5 linked regions of the Homo sapiens genome follow. The protein of the gene in region 5 purifies or fractionates together with the protein of the main gene of each other region. This does not show direct contact. Each region holds a gene or a part of one and is shown on either strand. Other genes may lie near its edges.

Region 1 (3,519 bases), on a different chromosome or scaffold from region 5:
TCTAACCTTTACATTACCCAACACTCCATGTGTTTGTACTCTTAAGTTCATTGTTAAGACTTTGACAGAATCAGGTGAATTTGCCAGGCAAGCACCTTTAAGAGGCTGCTTGTTTCCTCCTCATACTCTGCAATTTTGTTAGTTACTTCCTGGGGTAGTAGTGGAGGTGGAGGAAGGGAGTATAAAGAGATCATGCAGGTTGTGGTGATGGAGGTGGAAGAGGTAAAGGTAGCCCCAGCAGTAGGTATAGAGACCAAGTTACAGTGCTGCTTCCTGGGGCATGGATAACTGAGATAAGACAAATCCCATCATTTTGATACACATGTTCACAGCATGAATTAAATAACCCCTTCTCTAAGAGATTAATAACCTATAAGAAATACCTCAAATCAAAGTTAAAGTAACAAAAATTGTAGGTACTTTATGATGTCCTACTGATATTTAGCTTGAATTGATAAATAACCTATGTTTCTCATTTCTATCCATAGTTAGGCTAATATCTACAAACTTTCACAAGGACTGTTCCCCTCTCACTGTTGGATATTATTCAGCTAACCAGCTAAACCTTTAATAGGGTGCTTTCCTTACTCTTCAGAGTGAAACTCTTTCTATTCCCTTATTTCAAACTCAGCAGTGTTTGTGTTAGTCTGTCATCTCATGATTCAAAACCGAGGAAAAAGCACCTACGACATAATGTGGGCCTCATACCTGATGGCAACCCTGATGTTTTTCCTCAGTCAGTATACAAATTTATCTTGGTTACTATAGCAACCAGTCTATCAGTTATTCTTCTAGCTCTTTTGCCTTCTCTCAGATACTAGGATTACCATATAATCAGGTTCTGCCAGAGCGCTTCAGGTCTTAGAGTTCTATTACCAGCTGCAACTGTCTGGCAGTTCACAGTTTGGCATTCCATCAGAGTCAGTTGTTTTTTAAGTCCACAAAACCTTTTTGTCTCCAAACCTTTTTAAACATTTTAAACATATATAATTTAACAAAAACATGTTTAGGCAGCAATTTCCTCATACTAATTTTCTCAATCCAGTGTTAGTCATTGCCCTGAAGATTGAATGCATTGCATCACTGCATCCAATAGCCATCCCTTTATAATAACAAGTAGAATCAATTTCCAGATCGAGGGTGACCATTTAGGAAATATATTTGCAAATGTGATTTTAGACTCAGTATCATCACAAACTAGCTAAAATGACTTAAAAGCATCTTGATCATCAGCAGCTACCAAATAATCCAGCTTTTAACAAAAATGATTTCTATAGGTTGTAGAAAGAATGTTTGGCCTTTAGATTAATTCATTTTAATTTGAGAAAACTGTTTAGAAAACTAATAGGAAGTGTTATCTTTTGTAGCCCTTGAATAAACAGGAAGAGAACAGTAAAGACTGAATAGTTGTATGGGTCTTTTTTTTTATATTTATTTGACATACTTTTTTAACTCTTAAAAATCTCAGAATTCATGTAACTAAAATAGTTTTAAATTATAAATATGTTTACCTGTTTTGGTCAAAACAAGGATTGGCCAGGTACAGAAGCTCATGCCTGTAATCCCAGTGCCATGAGAGGCTGAGGTGGAGGGATCACTTGAAGCCAGGAGTTTGAGACCAGCCTGGGCAATGTAGCAAGACCTCATCTCTACAAAAAGTTTTTAAAAATTAGTTGGACATGATGGTGCATGCCTATAGTTCTAGCTATTTGGGAGATTGGGGCAGGAGGATTGCTTGGGCCCAGGAGGTCGAGGGTGCAGTGAGCTATGGTCACGCCACTGTACTCTGGCCTGGGCGATGGAGCCAGACTCTGTCTCTTAAAAAAAAAAAAAAACTATAGTTAAATTATGATAATGCTTCAAGGAAATCTTTAATTGTACAAATAGACTTAAGACTGGTTTCACTTTCTCCACAGAGTCCTGATCTTTAAAATTTTTCAAAGGGGGAGTCAGGTTTTTAAAAAATCTGAGGATGAAATATAAGATTTTTTGAAACTTCTGAGGGAAAACTTGAATGGTATTTTTTTTTATTATACTTTAAGTTCTGGGGTACATGTGCAGAACATGCAGTTTTGTTACATAGGTATACACTGAATGGTATTTTCTAATAGGTATCCTATACAGAACAAGCCATACCTGTAACAAGCTATCTATATCTGTATAAAACCTACTTGGCCACTACTAATTGTAATAGACTATTCCAGTACAAAACTCATTGAACCATGGGCATTCTTATGAACCACAGATCAAACTTTCTAGAGAACCTATAAATAGTATGTAGTGCTGTATGCAAACTCACTGTCCCAGGAGCAAGCATCCTGATTACTAAGCAAGCTCAAGAGAAGAGGTGGGAGTATTCTTTCTGACATTGTTCTTGAACTGGTAAGAATAGCTGTGGATGAACTTAATATCCATAGTCCTCTTTTAATTCTGTGCCTGAAAGTATTTATTGAAATTGGAAGACTAAGGGAATCATCTTTCTGGTTATTAGCAGTACTGTTAACAATTGAATTTTTTTTTTAAATCTGTCTTTTAAAATATATTACCTATCCATGCCAAACTAAAATGGCAGGTGGATTGAACATTTCACTCAGCCCCAACTCCACCCCTTTCACTGCCAGCTTTTTCTTTCCTAGCATAGTCAATGTCATTAGTACAGAGATTTCCTAGTATAACTACTTCTTGTCCCTTAAAACTGAGAAGGGTCAGTGATGGAAGAAATATAAAGGGTGGGAACTTTTGGAAGGAGTAAGGGAAAAATTGGTTGCATTGGATATGGTGGACAAGTTGGTAAAGACTTTAGTGTTACAGGTGGTGCTTAGTCATTGGATTAGTGAAAGATGGGTGAGCAGAATGAACAAGTAGCTTGATAAAACTAGTAGCTTTGTGAGTGAAAGCAAGTAGATTTGTCTGTATTTTGCAATGGGTATTTTATCTTTATTAGCTTGGCTTAAGGGTTAAGGTTAATGATTGAGATCAGTCCTTTTTCCTTTAAGTGCACCTTACTGTGCCTATTATGTCCCAGATCATAGCCCTTAGCTGTTGACTTTTAACCTTTGCCTTATTTCCCAGCATAGTCCACAGTTATGTCTAGCAGTGCACACAAGGTTTAGTTGGGGAGGCGGGTGGTGAGTAAGCATGCTCTGTGGTATCTACTGCGCTTCACAATTGGTTCTGATTTTGAACTTCCTGGTTCTCTCCAATCTCCAGTCACCCTTAAACACACACAGGTACCAGTTCCTATAAGAGGAGGTAGGTAAGGGAGCTGAGGCAAAGAGAGTGCTTTGGATGTATAGGATCTTCATAACTTGAGGACATCCTATACCCAGTAAATATTAAATGTTAACAGTAAAACCTTGGGTGGTGTTGCCAGTTATCCTGCATTCCTATCAGTTCCTTGTTACCAACTTTTTTTTCAGGAATGAATGTGTTCACAGTAAGAAAGAAATATTATAGTGCTACATGTTACATGCAAAGAACGATAACACCATAACACCATAATGCTAACTAACGGTGGGC
Region 2 (3,519 bases), on a different chromosome or scaffold from region 5:
CAGTGACTCACACCTGTAATCCCAGCACTTTGGGAGGCTGAGGCGGGTGATCACCTGAGGTCAGGAGTTTCAGACCAGCCTGACCAACATGGTGAAACCCTGTCTCTACTAAAAATACAAAAATTAGCTGGGCATGTTGGTGGGTGCCAGTAATCCCAGCTACTCGGGAGGGAGGCTGAGGCAGGAGAATTGCTTAAACCCGGGAGGCAGAGGTTGCAGTGAGCCAAGATCGTGCCATTGAACTCCAGCCTGGGTGACAGAGCAAGACTCTGCCTCAAAAAAAAAAAAAAAAAGAACTTCAAAAACACCAGCAACAAAACCAAAAGAAACAATTTAATAGCATAAAGATACAACCTAGAGATTGGAAAAAATATTTGCAACTTATACATCTGATAAGGGGCAAATGTCCAAAATATATAATATTTTTGATATTACTCTAACAACTCAATAGCAAGAAAACAAATAACACAAGGAAAAATGGGCAAAGGATCTGAACAGGCATTTCTCAAAAGAAGAAATACAAATGGCAAAAGAAATATGAAAAAAATAGCATCTCTAAAACATCAGGAAAATGCGAATTAAACACATGATGAAGTATCACTTCATGTCTTTTAGAATGACTATTATCAAAAAGACAGGCCGGGCGCAGTGGCTCACACCTGTAATCCCAGCACTTTGGGAGGCTGAGGCAGGTGGATCACGAGGTCAGGAGATGGAGACCATCCTGGCTAACGCGGTGAAACCCTGTCTCTACTAAAAATACACAAAATCAGCCTGGCGTAGTGACGGGCGCCTGTAGTCCCAGCTACTTGGGAGGCTGGGGCAGGAGAATGGCGTGAACCCAGGAGGCAGAGCTTGCAGTGAGCCGAGATTGCGCCACTGCACTCCAGCCTGGGCAACAGAGTGAGACTCTGTCTCAAAAAAAAAAAAAAAAAGACAAGCCATTACAAGTGCTGGCAAGCATATGGAGAAGAGAGAATTCTTTTTTTTTTTTTTTTAATTTTTATTTTAGGTTCAGGGGTACATGTGCAAATTTGTTATATAGATAAATTGCATGTCATGGGGGTTTGGTGTAAAAGATTATTTCATCACAGAGATAATTAGCATAGTACTGGCTGGAGCAGTGGCTTGAGTCTGTAATCCCAGCACTTTGGCAGGCTGAGGCACGTGGATCACCTGAGTTCAGGAGTTCAAGACTAGCCTGACCAACATGGCAAAACCCCGTCTCTACTAAAAAATACAAAAATTAGCCAGGTGTGGTGGCGCGCTCCTGTAATCCCAGCTACTTAAGAGGCTGAAGCAGGAGAATCACTTGAACCCAGGAAGTGCAGGTTGCAGTGAGCCGAGATCGTGCCATTGCACTCCAGCCTCAGCAACAGAGCGAGATTCCATCTCAAAAAAAAAAAATTGCTCACTTTAGCAGCACATATACTAACCAAAAAAAAAAAAAAAAAAAAAAGTAAGCATAGTAGCTTTTCTGTCCTCACTCTCCTCCCACCCTCCACCCTCAAGGAGGCCCCAGTGTCTGTTGTTCTCCCCTTTGTGTCTATGTGTTCTCAATATTTATCTCCTACTTATAAATGAGAGTATGTGGTATTTGGTTTTCTGTTCCTGCATTACATCACTTAGGATAATGGCTTCAGCTCCATTCATGTTGCTGCAAAGGACACGATCTTGTTCTTTTTTTATGGCTGTGTAGTATTCCATAGTGTATATGTTCATTTTCTCTATCCAGTCTACCATTGATGGGCATTTAGATTGATTCTATGTCTTTGTTATTGTGAATAGTGCTGCAATGAACATACACGTGCCTGTGTCTTTATGATAGAACAATATATATTCCTTTGGATATAAACCTGGTAATGGGATTACTGGGTCAAATGGTAGTTCTGTTTTAACTTCTTTAAGAAATTGTCAGGCCGAGCGTGGTGGCTCATGCCTGTAATCCCAGCACTTTGGGAGGCTGAGGAGAGTGGATCACCTGAGGTCAGGAGTTCGAAACCATCTTGGTCAACATGGTGAAACTCCATCTTTACTAAAAATACAAAAATTAGCTGGGCCTGGTGGTGGACTTCTGTAATCCCAGCTACTTGAGAGGCTGAGGTTGGAGAATCACTTGAACCCAGGAGGCGGAGGTTGCAGTGAGCTGAGGTCGCACTGCTGCACTCCAGCCTGGGTGACAAAAGCGAAACTCTGTCTCAAAAAAAGAAAAAAAGAAATTATCAAACTACTTTTCACAATGGCTGAACTAATTTATATTCCCACCAGCAGTGTATATATATTTCTAAGAAAAAAGGGAATTCTTAAACATCATTGGTGGGAATTTAAGTTGGTACAGCCATTTTGGGAAATAATATGAAGGTTCCTCAAAAACTAAAAATAGTATTACTGTATGATCCAGCAGTACCACTACTGGGTATGTACCCTAGTGGAATGAAATTGATCTGTCAAAAGACATGTGCACTCACATTTTTATTTCAGTCTTTTAAAATATGTTAAGACTTATTTTGTGGCCTAACATATGATCTATCCTGAAGAATGTCTTGTGTTTGTTTGAGAAAAATGGGTATTACTTTGCTGTTGGATGAAATATTCCACATATGTCCATTAGGTCTATTTGGTCTAAAGTGTAGTTTAAATCTGATATTTTCTTACTGATATTCTGTCTGGATAATCTATCCATTGCTGAAAGTAGGGTATCTAAGTCCCTTACTATTATTGTAATACAGTCTATCTCCCCCTCAGGTCTGCTAATATTTGCCTTATATATTTAGAAGTTGTGATATTGGGTGCATATATATTTACAATTGTTATTTTTTTAATGAACTGACCTCTTCATCATGATATGATGACCTTCTTTATATCATTTTACAGTTTTTGACTTAAAGTCTATCTTCTGTGATAGGAGTATAGCTTTCCGTGCCTTCTCTTTTAGTTTCTAATTGCATGAAATATCTTTCCGTGTCTTCACTGTCAGTCTGTATGTATCATTAAAACAGCTATGTGAATTTGTTGATTGATTTTGAATATTGACTAACGGTGTCTCCTAAATATGATATATAAATGGAAATATGTAACTAAAGTATTTTCAATTGTAAGGCCTTTTTGCTAGCAGAATTTACTCTGATAAAATTATTTACACTAGTGATGTTATATTACATATTCTGTTAGCACTCCAAAATACCCAGAGGTAGTTTATAACATACTACACAATTGTTAATAAAAACCTATGGCATATATGCACATAAAATATTATTTCACTATTTCCTGCTTATTCTTCAGGTAATAAGTTTAAAGCAAATTTGCTAACCTATAAATAATCTCTGCCTATGGTTGGTATGTATAGTACAACCACACTTACATGCTTAAAAGAATTATAGCTATTAATCAAATTGTTCAGTTGTGTGTTATTTTAAATGTGTTTTTTATTCATGTATTCATTCATGAACACTTACTGATTGTCAGGGATTGATACTGAATGTTGTTGATTCATTATTATTTTTTTACTAGTGGAAAATG
Region 3 (2,999 bases), on a different chromosome or scaffold from region 5:
CTTCCTTTCCATTAATGGCTGCTCCTTTGAGTCAGGGCTCCTTTCCTTCCCCATCCTAGGTCAGCACAGCAGACTCAAAGGTTTCTCACTGGACCCTGTTCTAAAAGCAGGTACAGCCTTTCTGAGATTTTTCATAAGACTTTTACCTGCCAGGAACAATGGTAACAGACATCAAGAACAAGATGTACAATCCCTGGAAAGCAGATGAAGGTTAAGTTGCTGTCCTGTTCACCTGCCCAGTCTCTGTTTCCTGAATTTCCTTCCATTTACAGCAAGAAGCCCATTCATTTATCCTGAAGCTCTCAGTACTTAGGTGCTTGTCCTTCTTGGTATAAGTCAACTTGGTGTACGTTTCATTTGAGTGACAGCTAGAAAAGCTCCACTCAATAGTCACCTTGATTGGAGGCAGAGGCCAAGTCACTTGCCACACCCAAGTCAGGTTGGTAAAGATGCCCATTCCCCTCCTTCAATCCTTTTTCTTCAGAGTATTTGATATGTGAATAGCCTAATGAGGACTCTCTTATCCCTTTCTCTTTACCTCACAAATCTCCCTCCGACTTCTGGACACTCACCTCAAGGAGGCTGCGTGTGTACATGCATGCAGAGGAAAGCCCAGGTGTAGAGGGGCTGACAAGGAGAGGAGGAAGGAGGAGAGAGGAGGGAGAACTCCTAGCGATTGAAAGAAAGATAAATGGGAGCTACTGGTGTGAGTGGGACAACACAACGGAACCGTGGGATGTCTGAAGACACTGTGCTCACTCAAGGAAGCGTGAAAGAGAGGAAGAAAATTGGAGACCCATAGAAAATTAACATTAGATAAGGATTCTAGATGGTTTTTTGGTTATAAATACTTAGAGCTACTTGGTTTTAGCCTGATATCTACAAGTTAATCTGTTGAGTTCCAGATAAAAAGAATACTGGTAATGGATTTAGAAGAGAAATGAATAAAAGACTGTTATATTTGCTGCCTGAATATTGTGAAACATATTTAACATATTCACATATGAGCTATAAGACAATAAGAGAAGTTAAAATTTTGATTGTAAATGTGTATCATTTTCTAAAACATTCAGATGCTAGTATACCAAGAAATACCATTTAATACCCACATAAAATATATAAAACTTACCTGCTCAGCAAAAAATGAGAATATAGTAAACATAATCAATGTTGCTAGTACACAATGGGTCCAAAACTTCAATTTGTCTCGATAAGCCCTCCTGTGCAGAGAGAAGAAAGCAACTATGTACTTCTGTATATGGTTTCACTACCATTAGTTAAGCATTATTTATATACTAGTTCTATAAAAACAATGTTGGGAAACACAAAAACATTGTCTTGCAATTCTAAAATGCTCACACAATATACATTTCCAACACGAGTTCAGATTTTTTATTATGTCATAGTAAATATTATACTTGAATTAGTGAAGTTATCCAGGCAGGAGAGAGGACTTCAAAAGAAAATTACTTCTGGCACTTAAACAAAACCACTCTTTCATTCATTTTTATTCACTCATACTTATTTATTCACTCAGTTTCTTGATAAATACTTCCTGCGTATATGGAGAGATGAACAAGATGAAGTCCCTGCTTTTAAGTGTTTAGAAAACTGAGGCGTTGCTGACATGCTGACTGATGACTTGCCATCACATAAGACACAGAAATATGCATTATCAAAAGCAAAGTCATGTGAAAAACTTAGAGAAATGAGGACAGTGCCACAGAGATGGTGGCATTTCCTGTAAGCCTTGAAGGGGACAGGAAGCATATGGATGAGAAAGAGAAGGAGCAGTAGAGTGGCACGGTGGCCAGCTGGGCCCTACAGGACTGAGTGGAGTGAATCCATGCGGCAGCATGGGGGGAACTAAGCCAGGTGAAGGCGAGAGGGTATGAACTGCAGCTGCTTTGCAAAACCACACCGTGGGGTCTGGACAGAACACTCTAGTGGGAAAGTGGATGAAACAGACAGGTGGGGGTATGTGTGACATAATCAGGGTAAACATGTTGGCCATTTGAAGGATGGACAAACAAGGAAGGCAGGCAGTTTAGTTTTAGTCCAGGCATGAAAGGAAGCAGTGACAATGAAAAGAAATAAGCAACAGAAGAGACATTCCTGAGGTAGAATCAACTGGACCTGGAGCCAAGAGAATACTGAGGATAAAAAGAGGCAGTACAGCCATTTCCTCATCTGTAATTTGGAAATAATGAACAATTGGTTACGAAGATTAAATAAAAATGCTTACCATAGGTTTGGAAGATATGCTAGTAACTACCAAACTCTGGCCTCTGTGCTGAGTTACAGATTCTCATTTTCCACTGTTTGGGCGTCTCTACCTCAAGTCACACATCCAAAACGGCACTCGCCCACACACAGCTCTTCCCCCTGTATTTCCCACTTCTGTTAATAGGATCATAACCAGCTCTGTCAACTAATGTCTAGTGTCAGTGCAGTGAGAGACAATGCAGAACTAAGCAGGATGAGGAGCAAGCAACCTCCAGGGCAGGGGAATGACTGCAAGAGCACCCACACCTGATTCACACCATTTGTACAGCACAGAAATCAAGGTCCTCTCAAATTACTTTTAAGCCCACTTCTTTCTTATTCAAATGGACCCTTGAGGGTAAATTTAGTCACAAATTGAATTTGGGGAGTTAACACTTAGAACCACCTAAAGATCTTTTTCCTCTGAGTTAAGGGAAAGTGAAAACGGTGAGAAGCCATTCCTTGCCATTTCTGGGAGACAAGACCCATGATTCAGTAATAACTTCTCCTTATGAAAATAAAAACATAAAGATAGCAGCAATATTCATCCTAATTGTCTCATTTGCCCAACTCCAAGATACCGAGGAGTTCTAGTGCCAGGGTCTGCCAATTTCCCTTTTAAAGTGTCTCCCAGTTCGTCTATTGCTTTTTCTTTATTGCCTAGGCTGTATCCTTGGTTCACACCTGACTGACTGTTTCTAGGACTAGTGAAATGCTTATATACTTGTCTCCCT
Region 4 (3,519 bases), about 15 Mb from region 5:
CTGACCTCCCCCGATCTGGCCCTGCCCCCACCTGCTCCCGGGGCACACGTGCTCACCAGCCCAGCCGTCATTATCTCCCGCATGCCCTGTGCCTCCCCAGGTGCCCTCTGCCCTCCCTGCCTGACATGTTTTCCTCTATCCTCAGCCTCACCAAGGCCCAGCCCTCCTTCCCAGACTCACCTAGCACTGGTTATTTTGCAGTATGTTCCAAGACTGGGCAGCGTTTACACCTTCTGTTTAGCTGGTTTCTCTGGCACTGCTCCAGCAGGGAACGGCGCTGGTACTGCCAGGTGGGGGTGGAAGCCCAGGTTCCCCTCAGCCTTGTTGGCAGCGGAGTCAGGGGCTGCTTGTCATTGCCGGGTGGGTGGGGGGTACAGCTCCCGCCAGGCCTCTGCTAAGGCCACCTTGGCGGGGGGTGGAGGTGCTTCCTTGCCGCTCCCCACATGCACTCCCCTAACAGCACGTGGGTGGAGTGTGGGCACCTTGCAGCTCAGTGGCAGTGAAAGCCCTGTCTCCCCACCAGGCCTCCTCTTACTCCACTCCAGCAAGGAGGAAGGGGCACCTCGCCAGTGCAGGGTGGGGGCCCGGGCTGGGCTGCCCCTTTGTCTCCACCAATGCCTAGTGGGCATGAGGCTTTTTACCAGCTGGCGCTGATGGGGGTTCCAGCTTCCTGCGTGGCCTCCCCTGTACAGCCCTGGCAGAGGTTGTGGGGTGCCTGCTCACAGCCTCTCAAGGGTGGAAGTCTAAGCTGCTAGTTGGCCACTTGGGCTTGGTTGGAGGGCTGGGCCCGTTTTTTTCTGGGGTAGGTTGTTATTGTCTCAAAGTTTTCTGTCTTGCAAAGCTGCCCCTTCCCTGGCTAGACTGAGTTGGCTTTCACTGGGGCTCTGCGTTTGTACCTGTTGGCATTTCCAGGTTTCAGGCTGCTCCAGTTCCAAATCCAAGATAGACGAGGCAAAGGAAACCCCCAGGGGGATGCCGTGTGTCTTTCTCAGATCCCAGGCCCTGAACAGCTGCCTTTTCTCTGCCTGTCAGAGTCTTCTTATATTTGTTTCATGTGTGACGTCCAGGGCTTCACTTAATAGGAGGAGTAGGAAAAGCACAGCTAATCCATCCTCCCAGAAGCAGAAGGTGCTTGTGCATTAAAACAATTTCTTTCTCTCTGCTCTTTAGAATAGATTCTTTCTGCTGACCTATTTTCAACTTCACTATTCCTCTATCTAATTCATTCTGCTGCTAAGCCTATCTGGTGATTTTTAAATTTCAGATACTGTACTTTCCAGTTTTAAATTTTTCCTTTTGGTTCCAATAGTTTCCATTTCTTTCCTGAAAACTTCTTTTTTTTTTGAGATAGACTGTCACTCTGTTACCCAGACTGGAGTGTAATGGTGTGATCTCGACTCACTGCAAACTCCACCTCCTGGGTTCAAGCAGTTCTCGTGCCTCAGCCTTCTGAGTAGCTGGGATTACAGGTGCCTGCCACCATGCCTGGCTATTTTTTTTTTTTTTTTTAGTAGAGACAGGGATTTGCCATGTTACCCAGGCTGGTCTTGAACTCCTGAGCTCAGGCAATCTGCCCGCCTTGGCCTCCCAAAGTGCTAGGATTACAGGCGTGAGCCACCACTCCCAGCCTCTTTCCTGAAAACTTCAAGTATGTTCAACTGTGTCTCAGTGAGCATGGTTATAACAGCTGCTTTGTTTTTTGTTTGTTTGTTTGTTTGTTTGTTTTGAGATGGAGTCTCGATCTGTCACCCAGGCTGGAGTGCAGTGGTGCGATCTTGGCTCACTGCAAGCTCCGCCTCCCAGGTTCACGCCATTCTCCTGCCTCAGCCTCCTGAGTAGCTGGGACTACAGGCGCCTGCCACCACGCCTGGCTAATTTTTTGTATTTTTAGTAGGGACAGGGTTTCACCGTGTTAGCCAGGATGGTCTCGATCTCCTGCCCTCGTGATTCACCTGCCTCGGCCTCCCAAAATGCTGGGATTACAGGCATGAGCCACCGCGCCTGGCCAAAGACTACTTTGAAGTCTTTGTCTGATAACATCAACATCTGGGTCATCTCAGGTTTGACGTCTTTTGATTATTCCCTTGAGAACGTTAACATTTCCTGGTTCTTGGTGTGCTGATTTATTGTGGGTTGTTTCCTGGATATTTGGTACATTATTTTGTAAGGCCAAGTCCTGTTAATGTTTTTTGGAGGCTGGGTGTTGTGCATGCCTGTAGTCCCAGCTACTCAGGAGGCTGGGGCAGGAGGAGCATTTGACACCAGGAATTCGAGGTTACGGTGTTCCATGATTGTACCACTGTACTCCATCCTGAGTGACAGAGCAAGACCCTGTCTCTTAAAAAAAATTAATAAAAAATAAAGTCATTTGGACAATTTTTCTATTTAATTAAATTAATTAATTTATTTATTTACAGTCTCACTGTTTCCCAGGCTGGAGTGCAGTGGCTCAGTTTTGGCTCACTGCAGCCTCTTGAGCACAAGCCGTCCTCCTACCTCAGCCTCTCAAGTAGCTGGAACTACAGGCATGTACCATCATTCTCCCTAATTTTTAAAATTTATTTTGTAGAGACAGGGCCTCACTATGTTGTCCAGGTTGGTCTCAATCTTCTGGCCTCAAGCAGTCCTCCCGCTTCAGCCTCCCAAAGTGCTGGAATTACAGGCATGAGACACCAGACCCAGCCAATTTTTCTTTTTCAAAAGCAGGTGCTCAGCCTGGCTGGGTACAGATGGCAGGTCTGTCTCATGTGGCGAGGGAGGTGGGCCCTGGCTGTCCAGCCTCCGAGGCCCTGGCTGCCCTGTTTTGGCCCCTCAGGAGTGAGGCTGGACTCATCTGGTCATTCTCAGAGCCAAGTATTCCTGCTCCAGCCCCCTCTCCTCTGAGCACCCCTCTGCCCTCAGCACACCCTGGCTTCTCTGGGACAGGGGCCTGCACCCACCCTGCTGCCCCATAGCTCAGACGTCCCCGAGGCCAGAGCTGGAGATAAACCCAGCTCCCAGCTGCTGACTCTGCACGCTGGCCTCTCCAGCCAGCGGGCCTGCTGCTGTGGATCTCTGGTGTCCCCGGTTCACTGCCTGTTTCTTGTATCTTGTCCAGAGCTATCAGTCATAGCGGGTGGGAGAGACAGGCGGTCGGGCTTGGTTCATTCTGGCCAGAACTAGATGTCTGAATGCTGCTTTCCATTTAGGCCAGCGTGTACTGTGCCCTGCAGTGCTGCGGGCTTCACACCCAATGGGATCCTCATAGCCCTCTGAGACGCCCCTTGTTATCTTCTCAGAGGTGGAGATGTGGGACTTAGAGCTGAGCTCACAGGTTGGGGAGTGGGGACTCAGAGCGAGGCTGCTCCAGAATCTGGGGTGAGCTCCCTCTTCAAAGGCAGGGACTCTGGGATTTGTTTAAGTAGCCCCCGTGGCCTTTCATAGCAGGGTGCACGGGGGGAAGAGCGGGGTTCCTGGAGCAAAATCAGTCCAGTTCCCATGACAAAGTTCCCTGAGGCACCGTACGGTCCCTGGAGCCCT
Region 5 (4,308 bases):
TCTTCTTCCACGTCTAATCACCAAGCACTTCCTGTTCTATCTCCCAAATGATCACAAAACTTTTCCTTCCACTTCAGTCACTGCTGCTGCCTTTTTAGCCTTACTGTTCTCCAGATGAACATAGAGTATCTTAATCAGCCCCACTGCTTTCATAAAGCCCTCTCCACTGCGCAGAGTGACGTCACTGCAAGCACATCGGATAGAGACTCCTCACCCCTGTGTGGTTCAGTGACTCTCGTTTCCAGAATAAAATTCAAACTCTACCCCAGCATCTAATTTTGGGTCAGATAGATCTGCATTTTCATTCCAGGTTGATTCACTGTCCAGCAGTGTAGCCTCAGATAATTGAACCCTCTAAGCCTTTGTTTGCTCATCTGCCTGAACTCACTGAGGGTTGGGACTGTTTCACACATGCAGTATTGGCACTTAGACTTAATGTTGAATGAAGGGGAGGCATTTTAAAATTCACATCAAAAAACTGTTATTCTTTAAAAAAAATACTAATCTACAAGGTCACTTCCCCTCCAAGCATGACGTCTACCTTTACTTTCTGATAATCATGATCGGCTTGTGGGGATCAAGATTACTCAGGATTAAATTCTGGCCCCATCTTGAGCCGTCATGGAAACTTGGGGAAGCTACTTAACTTCTCCATCTAGATTGATTCTGCAAAATCCGTAAAATGGAATGGTTTCTGGGGGTTAAATTAGTATACCACTGTTGGAATACTGTCAGGCTTGCCAGATATTTACTGTTCATCTTCATCAAATGAGGACAGTGGTATCCCACTATATGGTTTTCAATTTTGTGTAAGAAAAACGTGCTTTATGCATTGTTAGTAAAAGAAATATCTGAATATCCCTGCCATGGAAGAAAGAAACAGAGGGAGAAAAGAGAGTTGGTAGGTCCTAGCATTTCAGAACTGGGAAGGATGAGTTCAGTCCCTATTTTATAGACAATGAAGGGAAAGTGTGATGTGTCCTAGGGTTTCATTCAAGTCGCAGTCATCACGCTTTATCGAGAGTGGGACCAGGGCTCTAGGAGTTGCTGTGGTCAAGTTGAAGACAAAAAGTAACACTTGTAAGACAGGAGAGAAGCATTTACTTACAAAGCAGTCCGAAATTTGTGTATAACTACATTTGGTGAGCAAACGAAAGCTGCCAGACTCAGAAAAACAGAGATGCTAATGGAACTGACTTTAGTAACCAGGGTTTTCTATTGAGTTCATTGCCCAGGGTGACTTCCAATAACAACCTCCAACCCCTGCACTTTTCTCAGGACTGGAAAGCTCAGGCAGCCCAGGATGAATAATGCAGTCACCACAGAGGGACAGGGTGGCCACAAGGTGGGCAGCAGCAGGGATGGGCATTGTGAGGCATTTGGTGGGTCTGTGGGGTCGGCCATTGTGAGCCACTAGCCTGACTTGGTTGTTTCCTGGCAACCAGGTGACATAGGAGGTTTTGTGGTTACTAGGCAACGGCCAGGGCCAGCAGCCTTCAGTCGGTAGCTGGCCGTAGAAGGAGGAGGAGCTCCGACTACATTCTGTCCTTGTGCCTCTTGGACTTTTTTGTGTGTTTAGGTGCCCAATGGGGAGCAAACTGACTTGCTGCCTGGGCCCCAGCGGGGGCCTCAACTGTGACTGCTGCAGGCCAGATGTGGGACCCTGCCATGAGTGTGAGATTCCTGAGACTGTGGCAGCCACAGCACCAGCATCCACCACTGCAAAGCCTGCCAAATTGGATTTGAAAGCTAAGAAGGCCCAACTCATGCAGTACCTCAGCCTCCCGAAGACGCCGAAGATGCTGAAGATGTCCAAAGGTAAAGAAGCCATGGGTGCCATTTGCTCTCTGGCATCTCTCTGGCCACCACCGCCCCCACCCCTTTGCAGTCCCTCACCCTCAGAGACATCCTCAGCTTCCAGCTCCCTCCTGCCCATAGCCGGCTTTCCCAGGGCTAGGCATGGGGGACAAAGGCTGGTTCTGCCTCTTGTCTTTGTTGTTGAGCCTTCTTTGTTGAGGACTTTTTGGTCTAGTCCCGGCCCTTTTCTCAGTAAAATTTCAAATACTCCAGTTTTGGAGTCCCCATCCCATTCTCTATCCTTACCCATCCAGCTGGTCTGGTACCTAAGTGAAGGAGCCAGTTAAGGGCCCAATTGTTTCTTTTCTCCCATTCCTTAAGGTAGCTAATAATTGGGATAATTTAGACTCAAATATGTGGAGACTTCTTAAATTCAAAATAGAGTTTGCCATGGAAGAGATTATATGGTATTCTTAATAGATGGTTTTAAGTCACATTGACAGAAGCTGCTTTACTTCTTCCAATTGTAATTTGAAGAAAGAAGGAAAAAAAATTGGGGGACATGCTTCAAATGACTGCAAAAGGTATGAAATGTTAGTGCCAGAGCTGTAAAGAAATTGCTTTTGTGTTGGTTTTACCCAAAGAGTTTAGTCATGGAGCTCTGATTACTTTAAAATTCCCAATTTGACATGAGTGTCTCTTCAGCCCTACTACAGTGTAGTCCCTATATTGTAGACAAGGAAGGGAAAGTGTGATGTGTCCTAGGGTTTCATTCAAGTCGCAGTCATCACGCTTTATCGAGAGTGGGACCAGGGCTCTAGGAGTTGCTGTGGTCAAGTTGAAGACAAAAACTAACACTTGTAAGACAGGAGAGAAGCATTTACTTACAAAGCAGTCCGAAATTTGTGTATAACTACATTTGGTGAGCAAACGAAAGCTGCCAGACTCAGAAAAACAGAGATGCTAATGGAACTGACTTTAGTAACCAGGGTTTTCTATTGATTTCATTGCCCAGGGTGACTTCCAATAACAACCCCCGCCCCCCTGCACTTTTCTCAGGACTGGAAAGCTCAGGCAGCCCAGGACGAATAGTGCAGTCACCACAGAGGGACAGGGTGGCCACAAGGTGGGCAGCAGCAGGGAGGTGTGAGCCATTGGGTGGGTCTGTGGGGTCGGCCATTGTGAGCCACTAGCCTGACTTGGTTGTTTCCTGGTAACCAGGTGACATAGGAGGCTTTGTGGGTACTAGCCATTGGGCAGGGCCAGCAGCCTTCAGTAGCTGGTAGTGGAAGGAGGAGCTCTGACTACACTCTCACGACTGTTTTTTGCCTCTTGGTTCTTGTTATGTCCCTTTCTTTTTGAAATAAGACGGAAGGTCCCCACCTTCATAGACATAGAGATCCCATCTTATTTGTTTTTTAAAATAAATTGAAAAGTGAGGCGGAGCCTTGTGAGGATGATGGGAGAGGGCTTCCAGAGAGGAATTTCTTCTTTGGAATTCCTGAAATGGGAACAAACTTGTTTTGGGAAAAGGACAGAAAGACACAAAGGTGGCTGCAGCAGAGTGAAATGAATATGATGGGCTAAGGCCTTGTACACGTAGTGAGCATTGACAAAGAATATGGACTTTAGTTGAGATGGGAAACCACTGGAGGATTACAGCCTGGGGATTACTGTTAATCCTCCAAGAAGAAGACTGACCAGCGGCTGTGTGAGAATGTCCTGTAATGCAGGCAAGGGTGGAAGCAGGGAGACCAGCTAGGAGGCTGGTGGCGAAGTGCAGGTGAGAGTCAACAGTGAACAGACAGACGATCATGACCTGAAATAGGCTGACTTGAGAATCTCTAGAGTCAAGTGATCCTAAAAGTAGGTAATAAAGTGATAAATAGAGAAGTCACAGAAAAAGAAATGCAAACGATCCTTAAACACATCTTCACACATAAGAGAAAGGCAAATGACAACTATACTGCAGTGTCTCTCCTACTGAGTGGAATTCCAAAAACGTGGCAATACATTCTTTGGTTTGGCTGTAAGGAAAGTTGCATGCATATATTGCTGGTGGAAATGCAAAATGGCTCGACTCCACGAAGGGGAATTTGTCACAATTGCAAATGCATTTAAGCCAGAAATCCTACTTTGAGGCATTTTATCTCGAGGGTATACTCCATAAATATGAAACAACCTATGCACAAAGTCCTTGTTGCATTATTTTCAATAGCTCAATATTGGAAATAACTGAAATGTCTAGTAAGGGACTAGTAAAATTAACTGGTACTTCCACCTAAAGGAGAACTATGGAGCTGTAAACAAGGGTAAGATGTCATTTTACTGCTATGGAGTGATTCCCAAGATAGGTTACACAGAAAAGCAAAAAGGGAGAACATGCGGTAACATACATGAAAGAAAGCAGGGGGAATAATGTGTGATTATTAAAACAAACAAAAAAACAACGCTGGGGAATTCTTGATGCTGACCTGTGACTGTTTTCTCCTTAACTTCAGTGGGTAGCCA

Evidence for each region.
Region 1: the proteins of C22orf42 (region 5) and WDR44 purify together in Homo sapiens (affinity purification with mass spectrometry; one large-scale study listed by BioGRID and IntAct). This does not show direct contact.
Region 2: the proteins of C22orf42 (region 5) and SEPTIN14 purify together in Homo sapiens (affinity purification with mass spectrometry; one large-scale study listed by BioGRID and IntAct). This does not show direct contact.
Region 3: the proteins of C22orf42 (region 5) and GNPTAB purify together in Homo sapiens (affinity purification with mass spectrometry; one large-scale study listed by BioGRID and IntAct). This does not show direct contact.
Region 4: the proteins of C22orf42 (region 5) and CERK purify together in Homo sapiens (affinity purification with mass spectrometry; one large-scale study listed by BioGRID and IntAct). This does not show direct contact.

The regions. Positions count from the first base shown.
Region 1 is NC_000023.11:118,352,600-118,356,118, forward strand, and holds part of WDR44 (WD repeat-containing protein 44), read left to right. Parts: intron 1-3,519. UniProt on the Homo sapiens protein: Downstream effector for Rab11 which regulates Rab11 intracellular membrane trafficking functions such as endocytic recycling, intracellular ciliogenesis and protein export.
Region 2 is NC_000007.14:55,807,250-55,810,768, reverse strand, and holds part of SEPTIN14 (septin-14), read left to right. Parts: intron 1-3,510; coding exon 3,511-3,519. UniProt on the Homo sapiens protein: Filament-forming cytoskeletal GTPase. Involved in the migration of cortical neurons and the formation of neuron leading processes during embryonic development.
Region 3 is NC_000012.12:101,747,972-101,750,970, forward strand, and holds part of GNPTAB (N-acetylglucosamine-1-phosphotransferase subunits alpha/beta precursor), read right to left. Parts: intron 1,221-2,999; coding exon 1,130-1,220; intron 1-1,129. UniProt on the Homo sapiens protein: Catalyzes the formation of mannose 6-phosphate (M6P) markers on high mannose type oligosaccharides in the Golgi apparatus.
Region 4 is NC_000022.11:46,728,246-46,731,764, reverse strand, and holds part of CERK (ceramide kinase), read left to right. Parts: intron 1-3,519. UniProt on the Homo sapiens protein: Catalyzes specifically the phosphorylation of ceramide to form ceramide 1-phosphate.
Region 5 is NC_000022.11:32,156,494-32,160,801, reverse strand, and holds the start of C22orf42 (uncharacterized protein C22orf42), read left to right. Parts: upstream 1-1,498; 5' UTR 1,499-1,579; coding exon of another isoform or gene 1,580-1,586; coding exon 1,587-1,818; intron 1,819-4,308.